2 linked regions of the Homo sapiens genome follow. The protein of the gene in region 1 interacts with the protein of each later gene in a pairwise test. Each region holds a gene or a part of one and is shown on either strand. Other genes may lie near its edges.

Region 1 (9,242 bases):
AATGACCACAAGACAGTCCCCATACTCAAGAACTCACAGACAAGTAAACCAGCCAGCGGAGTACAGATGCTGATGAAGGTCAGAAGAGCGGCACCCAGTGCAGCATGGCAGGGTGTGAGGGGCCACTCAGGGAAGACCCTCAGAGAAGGTGAAGCGTGGCCTGACTCTTGAAGGATGAGTAGATGCTGGCCTAGTGGACAGGGTGTGAGTGAAGGGGAAACATTTCAGGCAGAAGGGACAGTTATCCAGAGGCACATGGGCACGAGAGAGCAGGAGAAGCTTGGAGGATGGAACACACGGAGTGAAGATGGACAGCCAGGCCCAGAGGGCCTCAGAAGCCCTGGCCCAGAGTTGGGCCTCTATCCTGAAGATGATGGCAAGGGACTACAGGGTGAAAACAGGAAAGAAACAAAAAGGATCAAACATGAGGAACACCAAAGTGTGAAGGGCAGACAGAGGTAGAAGACCCCGGAAGAGTCAGAAAAATATCACTCCACTCATTTCACAGCAGGCTCAGGTGGCAAATTGTCAGCAGGAATGGCCACTCCATGCTACAGATGGAGAAACTAAGACAGAGAACAGCTCAATGCTTGACCAGGCCGCACTGTGAGTGGCTGAGCCAGAACCTGAACGCAGCACTCTAACTCCTACTCACACTTACCTGCTCTGCCTCTAATTTCCTTCCTTTTTGTCAAACTACTGGACCCCTAGGTATAGGGAGATTTCTTCCAGTACTCCCTTTTCCTCCTCGTTTAAGCCTAAAATCATCAAGGTGTATGGTTCAACAGGAGGCTACAATTCCTGGAGCCAGCTTAGATTGAGGTCACTATTCTTAATTCTACTTAATCCTCTCTCCATACCATAATAAAGCCACCTGAGTATACACTGGAAGATGGGGAAGAGAGACAGGAAGGGGAAAAGGGAGACAAGAGGGAGACAGAAATAGGGAGGGAGGGGGTGAGTGGGGAGGAGAGGAGAGAAAGTTGGGAGGGGGGCAAATGGCGGGGGGAGGTGGGGTGGACAATGGGAGAGAAAAAGAGAGCGAGAGAGAGAGAAGCATTTGGCTTGAGGCCAAGAAGTGAATCTGTGATCTGAGATGTGAATATCAAATGCCTTCTTCCTAGTAGGACAGACCACCGGGTCACTTTTCTGAAAGGCAGATGGGTGTATGGGGAGTGGATGGGTAGATGGTGCAGGAAGGCAGCAGGTACCCACTAAACAAACAGGGGGTGGGCGGGTTGCCTGCACAGAGGAAGCAGAGAACAAAGGCCTCTCACTCTTCATGCAAAGTCCACAGTGTGCAAAGGGCATCAATATTGGACATTTCTCACTGTGACATTTTGAAAGCTCAGCCTAGCCCAGAACAATGGTTACCCTCTGGGGACCATGGGCCATGTGCCTTATTTAATGATGGCTTGGCACAGCCCATGTACTTGGTGAACTTGACCTTGGGCATCAGCCTCCCATGATGGCTCTACGTCACTCTGGTCTCTTCCCCTAATGAGAATTCCAGTCTCACATGAATGGATGGATTCATTCTGGGGGCAGGAAAACCACTCAGGGAGTGAATCAGAAGGACCCAGCCCCGGTCTCCTTGCCAGCCATTGAGCTAGGAACTGAGTGTGATTGTGTGCCCAGGCGCCGGTGCTGTTCCCGTCTTTGAGAGACAGGGTCAGGGTCCACGCAAGAGATGACGTAGAAGCCCTTTAAGGGGGAAGAGAAAGGAATCTCAGCTTTGAGGGACAAAGCCACCCTTCTGGCTGTGACTCTCAGTCCAAGGAGATACCAAGATGTGCATGTACTGGTAAATTAAAGCTACTAGATGAAAATCTCAGCTCTTGTTAGACAGTTGTCAATCTCAATTCTCTCCAACCTGACAGGATAACCTTTAAGGAATGGGCTACTATTTTTTCAGAAGGGAAACTTTCTGTGAGACAGGTGGAAACAACCTGCTTCGGATCACCCAGAGAATCATTTACCTTTATTAGTTTCTGCTGTGCTCTTCTCCCAACTTGTGAAGGAAAGATTGGTTCAGTAAAGGCCAATCTAGGCAATATAAAGCATCTGTACTGCCTCATTTTCACTTTGAAAAATTAGGTAAGAACACTCCAAAGATTCAAGACGCAGCAGCCAAAAGGATATCTATATTGCAAGACTGGGGGGCCCAGAATGACACTGAAAGGACGTAATTCCTCTGGGAAAGGGAACTGAAGAATTGCCGCTTTGCCCACCACTAACTAGGTTATAACAAGACAGGGAAGGTAGCTTTTTAAGGCTCCAGCCCCTTATTGGCCTCCTGGAGCAAATGGTGGAGGGAAAAGCAGAAGCTCCTGCCGGGGCTTATTAGGACATTGCTTCAGGCTTTCCTCCCGTGCTTGCGGTGATTGTCTGACATTTGTCCATCAATCTTGGTCTAAGAAACAGGTGGGGGAGGGGACAGATGGTTCGCATTTTACTTTAGAGAAGTATCCCTGACACTGACTGATATCAGCTGCTTGCGTTCTCCACTGATGGCCAAAATTAAGCTTCAAAAGCCTTCCTGAAGGACATTCTGTTATCTTAATTCATTCATAACTGGTTATCATGCGCTTTGCATAAACAAACACACTAGCCTCTGAGGACAGAGTGGCAAATATGTTCCCTATGTCCATGGGCTGATTAATCTTGTACATCTCTGGGGCTCAATTTATTCACACACTATAGTTGAATCCCCTGAGGTCCAGGGTTGTGGCTATATAGGTCCTTGGGCCTGACGGTAAGGTAAGGTGCTGCATATGAGTATTCTCTAACCTCTAAGAAAGCCCCAGGAAGGCAGGCAAGTCACAATTCTCTCCTGTGAACATAAATAATCGAGAGCAACAAATGGGGATTGCCTTTTGGGCAAACTGAGTCTTACAAAATAAATACACCATTATGAAGTGTCTACTATGACCCAAGTATCACATCATACTGCAGCAACTGGAATTGTGACTCTATTACTCTAAGACTCCCTGGCTTCTTTTCTCATGGCATGATAGTTCCCATAAGTTTAAACTTAACCATGCCTATTTAGAGGGCAGGCAGTGAGTAATAGCTCTGGAATGATTAAAACCAGTCCAATCCCACAGTGGAAGGGTGTGTGCGGAGTGTAATTCTGGCCCCTTTAAAAAGAGAAGCAAGTTTTCCTTGTCTTTTGAAGCCTGCTAAGTCGTGCAAAGAGGATAGTTACCCAGAAGGGAGTGGGTTTTGATTAGTGAACTGGGTCCAGGCTGCCACAGCGAGGGCCACAGCTCTGGAGGGACTGGCGCGGGGCAGAGATGCCCACAGGAGAGAAAGACGACACTGACTCCACCTCAATGGGTGTTTAAAAAAGGAGGGAACAAGGAAGTCCCTCACTTCAAGGAGCTAGGAGGACGCGAGTCCGGCAAAACGGGTCAGACGCGGAGTCCCAGGCTAAGAGGATCATCCGCCACTCTCCCCGGGAGTCCTGCTGAGAGACTGCGACTCCGGAAAGCACCGAGGGAACGACCCTAGGGCAGGGGCTGTCGGGCCTTGCTCTGGGGCGGAGGGGTCGCGCGGGACCGGAGGGAGCCGGGACGCGGCACTGACACAGGGCCAGGGGCCTCGCGGGTCCGCGGGTCCAGCAGCTCCCGCCGCCTGGGCCTCACTCACCAGCTCATGGTCCCGAACCTGCGTCTGCCGCCGGGGTCCTCAGCCACAACTCGTTTCTCTAGGGTCACTTCCGGATTCAACCAGTCTCCAGGAAGTGACGTAAGCCCGCCTCTCTGCCCGGAAGAGGCGGTTGGGAGGCGGAGCCCGGCGCGTTAACCCTTCTGCTGCTGCGTGCTCGCCGCGGAGTTTCCCTTGCCGGCGACTCTCTGGCTCTGGCCAAGCGCTTAGACACACAGGCTGCAACGGGGGATGAGGGGAACCTCTGGGGGCGTTTTCTGCCTTCAACACTGACTCCTAAAGATCTCTTCACCTGACCATGCAGGGCCCTTAGCCGGGCTGTCCCCTCTGTCAAGTGGTTTCTAATCCAGAGACAGTGGCAGCAATTGTCTGTGGGAGAAGAAGCCATTTGGGATGGAGAAAGTGGAAAACTTACATTCTCTGAATGCTCTTTCCTATCTTTTACAGTTTGTACACCACACATGCATTACCTGTTACAAACAAACGGACGTTTCCCTTCCAAGATGGCACAGGGCTCTGAATATCAATAGATAGGTGCTTTTCAGGTTGGAATGTTTCCTAGAGTTATTCAACACAATAAGACGCAGAGTATGAGTTGTTCCCTGCCTTTCAGCCCTTCCCTTTGGTCTCCTCTACAGGACTCAAATGATGTAAATTGCCCCATTCGTTCTATTCCTTCATTTAACTAATACTAGTTGCACTAATATTAGTGTCAGGTACCGAGCCAACCTTAGGATACAGCTATCTCAGAGAAGTATCTGCCCTGCTCTTGTTCCTTCCCAGAGCTACTTTCCTGGAGGGAGAGACAAGCAGGCAATTATAATCATGCTATAGGATAGGATAGAATGAGGTGTGGTGGCAGCCTAGAAGGGGACCCTGAAGTAGCACATGGGGTTTTGGGGAAGGCTTCCAGGAGGAGCCAGTGTGTAAGCCAAGCCCTGAAGGCAGAATCGGGGCTAGCCAGGTGAATCTGAGATGAGGGGTGACGAGGCTCCAGGCAGAGGGAACTTACCATGGCTAAGACACAGACAGGACCAAGCAAGCAGCTGACTTGCCTCGGGTCTCCCAAAGTCAGAATTCAGGGCCTTAGTGGCTCACAAGTTGCCTGGGATTCTGGGCCGACTTGGTTTCCTCACCGCTAAGTACCTCCCTGCCTTGGAAGAGAGACAAGAAGGCAGTGAGGCCCGTGCAGGTGCTGCTGGGCCCCCAGTGACCTTCTCTCTAGGAATTCTCCTTCCTCAGATGGACCGGGATTGTTTCAGGGACTGCTTAGGGGGTTGCTAATCAATGACCTAGCGGGAAAAATATGACCAATGACCTAGAGCAGAAGTAGTGTATGATTTGTTTTGACCTCCTAGGGTGGAGTAGAGGGCTTGAGCAGGAGAGGTAGGAGGGTGGGCCACAGGATGCAGTCTCTCATTTGTGTTTTCTGTTTCCATTCTTGAGAGTCCATAGTTTGACTCAATTGACGTTTCCAATGGAGGTTGGATCCCCAAGCACATCATGCAGATCAGCTTCATTACCATGTTGTTCCTCAGGAAACAGGCCAAAATGAGCACAAGAGCAGCCTTGAAGAGTAAAGAGGAAGAGCAGAAGTCACCAAAGGGTAGCCTGGGCAGAGAGTGTGGGTAAAGGGAAAGAGAGAGTCCTTGCTGCTTTGCAGAGAGTGTGACGGATGGAAGGGCTGTTGTGGGTTTAGGAGCCTCCTGGCAGTTAGCACCTGTGAATAGTTTTCCCACCTGCTTCCTCCCTTCCCCATGTTCTGCCTCCCTCAGTTATGCCCCACAGGGATAAATATTTCCAAACGTTTTAGCCTAGGTAACTGCTATATCCTAGTAGAAGTCTGTTTCAGGGCTGGAGGGCAGCAGACACATCCTAGAGGACTAGAATGGATAAGTTCTGGACTACAAGTCTGGAGGAGTCTGCGGCTCTATTTCCAGTTCAACCTTTGACACTATAACTGACCTCAGATAAGTCACATCCCCTTTGTGGCCTTAGTCCCCTCATCTATAAGATGGAGTGGGTAGATCACATCCCAAAGTATCCAACATTGCAAGGTTCCAAGTCAGCTGTCTTGTTGACTCTAGAGGCCCTAGGGAAATAGGAGAATGGGAAAGGCAGGTGAACAGAGGGGCAAGCCCAGAGAAGTGGGCAGGTCTGAGGAACTGGTGATATCTTGGATAAAGCTAAATATGAATTTTTCTGGGGCTGTGCTGTTGACAGGTCACCTCGAAATCTTTAATGCAGCCAGCAGGATCTTTGAGGTTACTAAAAAGAATGGTGTCCTCCCAGGAGTCTGTCTGGAATGTGCCTGCTTGGTCTCCTTACCTGTGGCTCATTCGCTCAGCTAGAGGGGCACTGGGCTGAGGAGGGACAGTCAGGCATCCTGCTATCCTGTGTTCCTCCATGAGCCTGCTGTGCCATGAGGCATTGATCCCTGGGGAGCTGAACATGGAGACACACAAACACTTCCCACTGTTGTGAAAAACTCAGCCTGCAGGGTCGGGAGCTATGTCTTTCTTATTTATAACCAAAGGGACAGCATGATACAGATTGATCCTGCCCCTGCAGGGAAGGAATGGAAAAGAGAAAATTGGGTTTCTAAGTAGAAGCTGAGAGTGGAGGCGCTTTGGGTAGAGGTGGATACTCCTGGTTTCAAGCCTTGTAAATACTGATTCTTCCCCAGAAGTCTGAGCCTGAAGGTAAAAGACTGTTCAGGTGGCAGAGGTCTACTTCTGGGACAAAGCTGTTTACGAGGGGAAAAGCAGCAGCAGAACCTGCTCCACCATCAGCCCCCAACTTTTCCTTGGAGGTTTTTGCTCAGAAGTTGGTAAGCAGGTGCTTCCCACTGACTCTCATCTCTGGGATTGTCATGTCCTGTCTCTCCCAGCCTTTCCCACACAGAAGTCTAGGGCTGGCCCCCGAGTCTTTCACCATGCCAACCTCTTATTAGTGAAGAGTGAGCATTCCCAGAACCTGGACCTGGGCTGTCAGGGACTTCATTATAGCACTGGGCTAAGGCTGAAAAACTGAATGTGATAGGGCCAAATTGGTGGGCTCAGCTCTCTTGGAGCCCTAAAGGTCTTGATTCCTCAGGGAGGCTCCTGCAGATATTCAGACACAGGCCTCAGGTTTCTCTGTGGCCTCACTGCCCCACTTCTCCCTACTCTGTACCTGCTCAGTAGGACGTCTCAGAAAAATAGCTTTCCCAGGGCCTTTGGGGGGCAAGGACATAGGAGGAGGAGCAAGGGTGGGAGAAGAAGGAGGAAATCAGGGTGAGATTTCCAGTGGTGGGAGGCCCACACGGACTGCTCAAAGGTCAGGGTGAAGTGACACATCAGAAGCCAGGACAGCAAGAAGCGAGCAGAACCAGGAACGCCTGTCTGACCCGTGGCTCTGCCTCCAAGTGGCTTGAGGGAGTCTTGTCCCTCCTCTGGGCCTCATTTTCCTTGACTGCAATGGGAAAGGTCCAGGTTAGATCTGGGAGGGCGAATGGATATCATCCCATGTGCCAACTCTGATTGTCTGCTTGGAATGCAGTGTTGAGGATTCTGGGGAATCTGCCATCAGTGGGGAAGTTCTATGATTGATTAGTCATGTCTGCCTTGGACAAGAAAGAGCGATGAGATGGTTTATATTCCACTTTATTGTTATTATTTTTATTATAAGTTAACAATAATTGAGCACTCATGACATGACAGGCACTATTCTCTGCAGTTCACATTTAATCCTTGCCTCAACCCTGTGAGGTGGATACTACCATTATTATCATTTCACAGATGATGGCGCTGAAGTATAGCCATGAAGCAATAGTATAGCTTCATGAAGCAGTGAAGTGGGGTTTCTGACCTGAGCACCCTGGCTTTGATCCTTATGCTTTTGCCACTACAGTTTGCCATTTGACCTCCAACAACCTTTGGTTCTGTCAAGGCACAGTGAGGTCAGAAGCCAGCAGACAGATGGAACCAGGAGAAGCACCGCTACTAAATGGCCAGGTTGTGGGTGGAGGGAGGGCCACCCTATGACCAGGGTGCCAAGCTCAGCCTCATCCTGGGAGCTTTTATATGCTTCCTCCAGTACGGAGAGTGCCAGGCCAGCAGGTGGCAGCACCGGGCAGGGTGACAGGAAAGGGCAGCTCCTCACATGGCATGGACGTCCTTCAGGGATCAGAAGGCCCAGATGCTGGGGAAAGCAAGAACAAATGCGGGTGTGGAGGAAGGATAGCCAAGGACCCAGAGGAGGAGGAGTCCTGGCCTCTGACCTGCAGGAGCTGCCACAGCCAATGCTTTGGTTCCACCCAGCAGTGCAGGCCTCTCAGCTTGCATCTCGTGGTGCCTGCTGTGGGCTTTTTTTTTTTTTTCCTCCACTCTGGGAGAATGACTAACTTTAAGGACTAAAAAAAAAGTGTTTTGATTACACTGCCTTTTTACCAACTGGGAGCATTAGTCACCGTGGATTGCTGCAGATAACGGGGAAGGCAAGCAGCACCCCCTCCTCCCCCTCCTTCTCTCTGATTAGCTCACAGAAACCAGGAGGAGACATGAGTGAGGGAGAGTGCACCAGTAGGGAAAACAATCCCCCCGGGTTGATATGTTCCCTGGGCATCAGGCCAAGGGCTGTCCAGGCTGGGCTGCCCCCTGACAGGTAGGCTCTAAGATGGCCCCAGACCCACAATAGGAGGTACCCACTGGAGAGAACTGGCAGTAGGACCACTGAGTCCAAGGCTCCTGAGATTCTGAGTTGGGTCTGGATGGTCTGTTCCTCCAGGTAGCTCCAGGGCACACCCAGAAGGGGAAGTCAGAGGAAGTCACTGAAGACACAGCTCCTGAGCTGGGGCTCAGGATGTCTGTGATGTGGAGCTCATGCCAGGCTGTGGTATGGCTAAGGCCGCTGCCTTGAGCTGGGGCCCTCATGGCTCTACCTGGGGTTGAGACATTCCTGGCAGGTGAGGTTGGTGCTCATGCCCCACTCCCCACCCTTTGGCCTTCTCCCTTCTTCTCCATCTCCATGGGGCAGTATCTAGTACTTTTGGCTGATGTTCCTACCCAGTGCGGCCCTCTTTGCTCCCACCTTGGTGCTGGTGGGGCTGGAGAGCTGAGGTTCCAGTCTAGCCTGTTGGTGCAAGGTGTCAGAAGTGGGAGCTCTGGGCCCTGCTGGGGAAGGCACTGAAGCAGGGAGAAAATGGTGCTGGGTTGCCTGGTTGCTTTGGGGGCAGGCTGACCTTGTCAGTCCTGGTCTTTTGGCCCACCCCTTCATCCCATTCACCACCCACCCCCAAATGCTTCACTCTGGAAAGCAGACATTTATTTATCTGAATGGCCTTTCAAGTGACAGGGCCATGAATATTTGTGTAAAGAACTTCAAGCATTAGGACAAATAACCTTTTTACTGTAACAGGAAAGGAAGAGACAGAAACATAATTCGATTTCTGCATCTCTCAAGATCAGAGTATTTCATCTGGATGTTGCTGCTGCTGACTTTCTCTTTGGAAAATAAAGTAGTCACAGGTATTTGGTGTGCTCTGGCCTCAAAAAGCTTTTATGGTACCACCTTACAGGAAATGAGGTCAAAAG
Region 2 (9,430 bases), on another chromosome or scaffold:
CAGACAAAAGTCTCTACCTTTGTGGAGCTCGCATTTTTACTAGGAGGGTGGGTGAGGGAGATCATGACAATAAGCAAGCATTAGTCAATTCTAATCATGTGAGAGAGTATTTTTTTGCAAAGACAAAAAAAGGAAGCAGCACAGCAGGAGCTATTGGGAGTGCCAGGGTCGGATGGGAAACCAGGTTTTGAGGATCAGTAACATGGCAGGACAGTTGTCTTTGAGATGGCGACAGCATGAACCAAGACTTGAGGAAGGAGAGGTGACTGGTCATTATCGTAATCCTATAGGAATCATCTTGGTTCTAATTTGATAATTTGCTTTTTGGTAAATTAAGAAACCCTATTAGGGACATAGGGGAATGCTAAAGAGATGATAAAAGCCCTCAACAGTTTTGTTAAGAATTAAAAGTCTTAGCCTTTCTCTGTGCCCCGTAAGTCATAGTTTATGAAAATATGCTTATTTCAAAGCTAAAATACCAGACTAGTTAGAAAATTTCAAATTATGGAACTCATTTTTCCAAGACTGCTATTCAGTCTTGGAATGTATGACAAAAGCTGGAAAGTTCTGTCTGTTCTGACTTGTGTCTGTCCTAACTGGCTCCAGGAGTCCGCATGTGTGAAAGTGGTGGCTGCTGTGAGCATGTGGGATGTGTGCATGGAGAGAGGACACCGGGACCTGGAGCAGTTTGAGAGGGTGCATCGCTACATCAGTGACCAGCTCTTCACAAACTTTGTAAGTAACTTTTTCTTCAAAAGTTGGCCCCCTTCCCAGGGTCATCTCAAATACATCAGCTCATGCAAGTCAGTTCCACGGACACAGGCCCTGGGCACCAGGCATATTAGTCATCCTTTAGCTATATTCATATTGGGGTTTGATATTCACAACATGACTTTCAGTTAGTTAAAGGGAGATGTAGGACCTGTGTCTGTACAAACAGGTTTTTTAAAAAATAGCTTGTGATTAATTTAGTTTCAGAGGACAAAGGAAAACTAGGCAATGAACTCTGATCAAATAAAAGCAACTATAGGAATAATAACTTGAAGAGGGTCCAGGCACAGTGGCTCATGCCTGTAATCCTAGCACTTTGAGAGGCAGAGGCAGGCAGATCCCTTGAGGTCAGGAGTTCAAGACCAGCCTGGCCAAGGTGGTGAAACCCTGCCACTACTAAAAATACAAAAATTAGCAGGGCATGGTGGTGGGCACCTGTAATCCCAGGTACTCAGGAGGCCGAGGCTGGAGAATAGCTTGAACCCAGGAGGAGGAGGTTGCAATGAACCAAGATAGCACCACTGTACTCCAGCCTGGGCAACAGAGCAAGACTCTGCCTCAAAACAAAAACAAACAAACAAACAAAAAAAAAACCTTGAAGACAAATATTTAGGAATATAGTTAATATGTTACCAAAGAGATTTGAGATGGTAAAAACTACTTTAAGTCCGGGCATGGTGGCTCACGCCTCTAATCCCAGCATTTTGGGAGGCCGAGGTGGGCGGATCACCTGAGGTTGGGAGTTGAGACCAGCCTGACCAACATGGAGAAACCCTGTCTCTACTAAAAATACAAAATTAGCCAGGTGTGGTGGCGCACACCTGTAATCCCAGCTACTCGGGAGGCTGAGGCAGGAGAATTGCTTGAACCTGGAAGGTGGAGGTCATGGTGAGCCGAGATCATGCCATTGTACTCCAGCCTGGGCAACAAGAGCGAAACTCTGTCTCAAAAAAAAATTGCTTGAAGTACTGAAGACCAAATTTCTTGAGAAATTCTAAATCCATATATATGGGATTGTTTAATCCCTTGTAGAAAAAACTGGATGGGGTTTGATAGTTTTGTAGGGATCTATAAGTGGCCTGAGGGTGAAAAAGACATGCCCACCTGGGGAGCTGACAGGTGTTCTAATTGTACATTATTTTTAATAAGATGCTACTAAGTACTACTAAGTACCTGTTTATGTTCTTTATGTATTCATTGCCTTACCCTTAATGTCTGTGTGTTAGAAAGAATTAAAGAGAAAAATTTATAATTTTTGTTTTGAGATGGAGTCTCACTCTGTCACCCAGGCTGGAGTGCAGTGGCACAATCTCTGCTCACTGCAACCTCTGCCTCCCAGGTTCAAGCGATTCTCCTGCCTCAGCCTCCCAAGGAGCTGGGACTACAGGCATGCACCACCATACCTGCCTAATTTTTGTATTTTTAGTAGAGACGGGGTTTTGCCAGGCTGGTCTCAAACTTCTGACCTCAAGTGGTCTGCCCACCTTGGCCTCCCAAAGTGCTGGGATTATGGGCATGAGCCACCGTTCCCAACCAAGAGAAAAATTCTTTGGAAGATAAAAATGGGGGCTGTGTGCGGTGGCTGACTCCTGTAATCCCAACTTCTTGGGAGGCTGAGGCTGCAGTGAGCTGAGATTGCGCCACTGCACTCCAGCCTGGGTGACAGAGCAAGACTCCGTCTCAAAAAAAAAAAAATGGGTATTACCTAGTTATGATTAAAGGTTTATGAGTGTATGAAAGTTATTCCACCTCAGATTTATGTAACAACTAACTCTGGAGTTAAATTCAAGCTATGTAGACATGTACACATAATAAATGTTACCAGGTAAACTTCACGGCTGGTTTCTAATGCACACATCATATCAGTGTGCAGCTTAGCATTTATCACCTCAAGGAGGTCAAGTGAGATTAGTGTATTTTACATACTCCTTGATGTGGGAATTGAAGGTATCTAGTGAGAAGTCTTGTGGAGTATTTAAGTAGAGGCTAGTGATGGGTTAGTAGAATACTGTTGTAGATCTGTATGGGTTTAGCTTGTGTACTAGAAACGAAGTAGGTGGTTCAGGACACAACAAAGTCAGCCTTAAGAGTGACTTGGATAATCACAAATGTGGGATGCTGTCCAGCTGAGCAATGTGCCTTTCTCGTCCCTACAGAAGGAGAGGACAGAGCGGCTTGTCATCTCCCCCTTAAATCAGTTACTGAGCATGTTTACAGGGCCCCATAAGCTGGTACAGAAACGCTTTGACAAGCTCCTGGACTTCTATAACTGTACAGAACGGGCAGAAAAGCTAAAGGACAAGAAGACCCTGGAGGAGCTGCAGTCGGCCCGGAACAACTATGAGGCCCTGAATGCACAGCTGCTGGATGAGCTGCCCAAGTTCCACCAGTACGCCCAGGGCCTCTTCACCAACTGTGTCCACGGCTATGCTGAAGCCCACTGTGACTTTGTGCACCAGGCTCTGGAGCAATTAAAGCCACTGCTTTCGGTGAGTTTCTTACCTGTTCAGTGGGATGGTCATCTATAGCCTTTGCCTGGTATTTTTCTGGGAAAAATGGTAGCATGGTTTGAAAAATTATCTGAATTAGATAAACTGAATGTGTCGCTAGTTCATCCCTCAGGAAATCTTAATCCCTTGATGGTGTCATGAAGCCTGTGGCTTCTGAAACATCTTTTCCCTCTTGAGCAGTTCCCAGAAGAGCCAGCCAACCTGGCCCGCAGGCAGTGCCCTGGAGAACTTGTGTCTTGCATCAGGCTGCTGTGTCGGTAGCTCAGAGAATGAGCTGCAGCTGAACTTTAGCTTCCAGTGGTTCTAAGGAGACTGTCAATCCGGGATCTTTCATCATGTTTTCTTCTTTTCTCTGGGATCTTTTATCGTGTTTTCTTCTTTTCTCTATCTCTGCTCTTCCCATGGACCCCAGTTACTCAAAGTGGCTGGCAGAGAGGGAAACCTTATTGCCATCTTCCACGAAGAGCACAGCAGAGTTCTGCAGCAACTCCAGGTTTTTACCTTCTTCCCGGAGTCTCTTCCAGCTACCAAGAAGCCATTTGAGAGGAAAACCATTGACCGCCAGTCTGCTCGAAAGCCACTCCTGGGCCTGGTGAGTAGGGAACTGAGAGCAGCAGCCCCGCCTCGGGGTAAAGAGGGGGAACCCTGCAGCCAGGCCCCCAGGCCCAGATCCCACTATTGGAGTTTCTGTATTTCATAATAAATGGAGAATAGTGTTGCATTCTCACCCATCATGGGCTCATGCATTCGCCATTTTTTTTTTTGAGACAGAGTCTCATCTCATTCTGTTGCCAGGCTGGAGTGCAGTGGTGTGATCTTGGCTCACTACAACCTGCGCCTTCTGGGTTCAAGTGAATTCTCCTGCTTCAGCCTCCCAAGTAGCTGGGACTACAGGCACACGCCACTACGCCCAGCTAATTTTTCTATTTTTTAGTAGAGATGGGGTTTTACCATGTTGGCCAGGGTGGTCTCGATCTCTTGACCTTGTGATCTGTCCGCCTCAGCCTCCCAAAGTGCTGGGATTACAGGCATGAGCCACCATCCCCAGGCTTTTTTTGTGGGGGGGAGGGGATTAACCCAGTATTAATTCATTGGTTCATTAATTCAGGAAACTGATTTAAGGGTATATTAATTCTGCCAGGCCTATTTTTTATGATGTATTCATAAAAGTAATACAGCTAAACAGTTAATGGTTGGCTGCCTTTTTTACCTGGAGTTAGTCTTTTTTAACCTCAGTTCTTCCATATTTTAAAAATTAGCATAAGGCACACCAGCTAGAGGACTGCTGATACATCTTTGCTTACAATATTTTTGCCCCATATGATCCCATAGACATTAATTTATATTACCTTAAAAGGGAGAATTATGATTTTTTGAGACAGAGCCTTGCTCTGTCACCCAGGCTGGAATGCAGTGGTCTGATCTTGGCTCACTGCATCCTCCACCCTCCCAGGTTCAAGTGATTCTCCTGCCTCAGCCTCTTGAGTAGCTGGGATTACAGGCATGCGTTACCATGCCTGTATTGTATTTTTAGTAGAGACAGGGTTTCGCTATGTTGACCAGACTGGTCTCCAAGTCCTGGCCTCAAGTGATCTGCCCACCTTGGCCTCCCAAAGTGCTGGGATTACAGGTGTGAGCAACCATGCCCAGCCTGAATTTATTATTACCTTTTTTCTTATGACTTCCTTGCTTTCACAGGTGGGGAAGTCAAGATAGATGAACCTAACCGAGAATGTCCCTAACAAAATACAAGAAGACCTACTAATATCACTTAGATATTTTGATTTTTTTTAAGTGGCATTTTAATCACGTTTGTCACAAGAAAACAAATGTAAGAATAGGTGTGTGTTAAATTTTCTTAACTATAAAGGCATCAAACATTGCCTAAGGGCTCTTGATTTTTACCTAGCCACATGGGCTGGCTTCATCACAAAAACATCTGATGGGAGTGAGATGGGCAGTGACTGACTGTCCCTGCCTCATTTCTGAGACTGGCCACATGTTGGGATGAAATATGGCTGCTGGGGTAGTGGCCACTGAGAGATTTTTGTTAACGTCTTACCTTTCAGCCAAGTTACATGCTACAGTCAGAAGAACTCCGGGCCTCCCTCCTGGCCAGGTATCCCCCTGAAAAACTCTTCCAGGCAGAACGGAACTTCAATGCTGCTCAAGACTTGGATGTCTCACTTTTGGAAGGTGACCTGGTGGGTGTGATTAAGAAAAAAGACCCCATGGGCAGCCAGAACCGCTGGCTGATTGACAATGGAGGTAAGAATTTTAAGCAGCAGAGGACTGTAACTGGAAAAAAAAAATAGTAGTTTTGGCTGCACCCGAATCTGGACTAGGCCAGGAAAAAAAAGCAAAAAGTATCTTTGATTAAGGGGAAAAATAACCTGAAAAATAACCTTAACCTTCTCTAGAGAGTGAAGATCATTACTGAAACAAAACCTCTTTTTGTTTTGACAAATTCCAGAGGAGACACCGTTGCTTATCATGCAAGCTCTTGCCATATCTTACAGCACTTACAGGCAGGAAGTCCTGCCTCACGGAATCCTGTTCCTTCTTAGCCTGTTCCCAGTATGCCACAAAATAAGCTGCCCTCTTTTCAAATTTTTTTTTTTTTTTTTTTTTTTTTTTTTTGTGGCAGTCTTGCTCTGTTATCCAGGCTGGAGTGCAGTGGCACAATCATAGCTTATTACTCCTGGGTTCAAGGGATCCTCCTGTCCTAGCTGGGACTACAGGTATGCCATCATGCCCAGCTAATTTTTTAATAATTTTATAGATATTACGTCTTGCCATGTTGTCCAGGCTGGTCTCCAACTTCTAGGCTCAAGCCGTCCTCCTGCCTGGACCTCCTAAAATGCTGGGATTATAGGTGTGAGCCACCGCACCCAGCACCTCTTCCAGTTTCCATGAATTTGTCTTGTGGAAATTAAAAACCTGTGGGATTTCATTTGCTTTCTTCTCCCCATGACAGTTTTACCTCATGACTATTTAGGGAATTACTTTAAAAACAGCTTACAACTTTTTTGGAGGGAGAGTGATTTACAGAATTTAAGTAAGTGTACAAGGGATAATACTGATCTGTAATCCCTTTTTCCAAAATCCAAAAAGCTCTAAAAACACTTTTGCCAAAACCTGAATGAAGGTGATGTGAGACTATTTATAATTGTAACTTATCCTTTTGGTGTGAATAGTCATGTGTATGTATTTTTCATTTTTATTATTTTTTAAGACAGGGTCTAGCTCTGTCACCCAGGCTAGAGTGCAGCAGCACGATCTCAGCTCACTGCAACCTCTGCCTTCAAGCGATTCTCCTGCCTCAGCCTCACAAGTAGCACGCACCACCACACCTGGCTAACTGTTTGTATTTTTTGTAGAGACGGGGTTTCACCATGTTGACCAGGCTGGTCTCCAACTCCTAACCTCAGGTGTTCCATCCCGCCTTGACCTTCCAAAGTGCCAGGATTACAAGCATGAGCCACGGCACCTGGCCTTATTTTTTTTTAAATGCTTGATTGCAATCTGATTCAGCCAAGAGGTTGCTCACATCATGGGTGGATGACTACATCTCCAACATGAATGACACAAAAACATCAGAACTTTCCTATTTGCAATTATGTGAGATACTTTAAGTTTTAGTTTATAACTGACACATACTTGTTCATATCTATGGGGTACGGTGCGATAATTTTGAGATAGGGTCTAGCTTTGTCACCCAGGCTGGATTGTAGGGGCACAATCTTGGCTCACTGCAGCCTCCACCTCCCAGGCTCAAGCAATCCTCCTGTCTCGGCCTCCTGAGTAGCTGGGACCAGAGGCATGCGTGACCATGCCCAGTTAATTTTATTTTAGTAGAGACAGTCTCCCTGTGTTGCCCAGGCTATAAACTTGTCATTTCTTTGCAGAGATATCATTCAGAATCCTTGGCTTCTAGCCATCTTGAAATATACATTATCATTAGCTATAGTAACCTTACTGTGCAATAGAACACCAGAGCTTATTTCTCCTAACTTTGTACCTGTTGAGCAACCTCTCCCCAGACTCACCTCCCCTTCCACCACCCCCAGCCTCTGGTATCTAGCATTCTACTCTCAACCTCTATGAGATCAACTTGTCTAGATTCCACGTGAATGAGATTATATGGTATTTGTCTTTCTGCGCCTGGCTCATTTCACTTAACGTGTCCTCCAGGTTCAACCATGTGGCCGCAAATGACAGGATCTCATTCTGAATATTCATTAACAGAATTGATTACGGGGTGCTGACCCTGCTGGGGGGTTTTACAAAATATGTAGTATGGGTACTTGACTACCTTCCCAGAATTAAAAAGAATCTGAATTCCAAAACATATCTGGCCCTAAGCATTTTAGGTAGGGATTGTGGTCCCTATCTAGACAGACATTATGTATTCACCACCCAGAACTGAAAAATGTCACATTTCTTGGTTTCTTTAAAAGCATCTTGTGGATTTTTTTTCTCCCCACTTCTGCTTACACAGAACGAGAGATTAAAAGTGGGACACGAAGGACAGAGGATGGAGCCTGTTAGGGTGACATCAGGTGACAGCTACTGCTGGGGTCAGAGACAGATGGACCTAAAGTCCCAAGCTGTTTAAGAAACTGCTCCATCCTTCAGTTTTTATCTACTCAAACTTGAGAAGTGGTAGCAGGAAGCCACAGTATTCAGATCAGCTGTCAGGTACAGGAAATGCATCAAAGATCAATAGAGTAATGGCCATTGTTCTCATGGAGGCTACATACTCTGGGTCTGTGCCTTGACAGTGTTATGAAAAATTGTCACGTGGATGCTCACGCAATCCCTAATTTATACTTGAGTTTTAGCTGAAAGCCCCCTTGGTCATCTTGGGCAATTTATTAAAGTGAACCATGTGCAGTACACGTTACGTGTATATTCTAACAAACAGTTTCCTACGTTAGAACATCCTTCCAGTATATCCAGACTCTCAGAGCAAAGGATTCACGTGTCCTGGTGGGAAAGAGGGCAGGGAGGTCTATGGAGGGGCTTCTTGAGCTGAGGCTTTTTTTTTGAGACGGAGTTTCGTTCTTGTTGCCCAGGTTGGAGTGCAATGGCATGGTCTTGGCTCACTGCAACATCTGGCTCCTGGGTTCAAGCGATTCTCCTGCCTTAGCCTCCTGAGTAGCTGGGATTACAGGTGCGCACCACCACATCCGGCTAATATTTTCGTATTTTTAATAGAGACGGGGCTTCACCATGTTGGCCAGGCTGGTTGTGAACTCCTGACCTCTGGTGATCTGCCCTCCTCAGCCACCCAAAGTGCCTGGATTACAGGTATGAGCCACTGTACCCAGTTTGTTTTGTTTTGTTTCAAATAGAGATGAAGTCTCGCTGTGTTGACCAGGGAACTGGGCTCAAGCAATCCTCTCATCTCAGCTTCCCAAAGAGCTAGGATTACAGGCGTGAGCTCCCGTGCGCTGCCGAGGCTGGTTCTTAACTCGGTCTTTTCCACACTTGCTGTATTTGAACATAGGCTTCATCAAGCCTTCCTCTTAGGCATGATCTCAGTGTCCTATGACATTCTCTTCCCATGCCGGTTCCCAGACATGGATTGTTTTCATTGCTGTCTTCTCAGTTGGCCATGGGCCTCCTGAGCATGCATCTGTTGTGAGGTTGTGAACATGAATGAACCGGCAGGCAGCTGCGGCTCTTCATCTCTACCTACACACATCACATCCTGGGACTGAGTGTTCCAAGCCGCTTTGTCACTAGGCATTTTATTTTGTGTCTCTCACTATTGGCCTGGCTTTTGAGTTTTTGTTTTACTCTTCATTTTACAGATGAATAACCTAGATCAGTTTTTTTTCTCTCAATGCTCCCTCTGTCTGTCCAGCCTTCTGCTAAGAGTTCTTGTTTATATTTCCTGTTTCCTTTGTAGTCACCAAAGGCTTCGTGTACAGCTCTTTCCTAAAGCCCTACAATCCTCGCCGCAGCCACTCCGATGCCTCCGTGGGTAGCCACTCCTCCACAGAGTCTGAGCACGGCAGCTCCTCCCCCAGGTTCCCACGCCAGAACAGCGGCAGCACCCTGACCTTCAACCCCAGCAGCATGGCTGTATCCTTTACCTCGGGGTCTTGCCAGAAGCAGCCTCAAGATGCATCTCCTCCGCC

What was found.
Region 2: the proteins of BIN3 (region 1) and DNMBP interact in binary tests that used the Homo sapiens proteins (3 or more experiments, as listed by UniProt).

What each region holds. Positions count from the first base shown.
Region 1 is NC_000008.11:22,665,393-22,674,634, forward strand, and holds the start of BIN3 (bridging integrator 3), read right to left. Parts: upstream 3,730-9,242; 5' UTR 3,660-3,729; coding exon 3,652-3,659; intron 1-3,651. UniProt on the Homo sapiens protein: Involved in cytokinesis and septation where it has a role in the localization of F-actin.
Region 2 is NC_000010.11:99,880,130-99,889,559, reverse strand, and holds part of DNMBP (dynamin-binding protein), read left to right. Parts: intron 1-606; coding exon 607-735; intron 736-2,927; coding exon 2,928-3,260; intron 3,261-3,693; coding exon 3,694-3,873; intron 3,874-5,350; coding exon 5,351-5,549; intron 5,550-8,359; exon of another isoform or gene 8,360-8,457; intron 8,458-9,198; coding exon 9,199-9,430. UniProt on the Homo sapiens protein: Plays a critical role as a guanine nucleotide exchange factor (GEF) for CDC42 in several intracellular processes associated with the actin and microtubule cytoskeleton.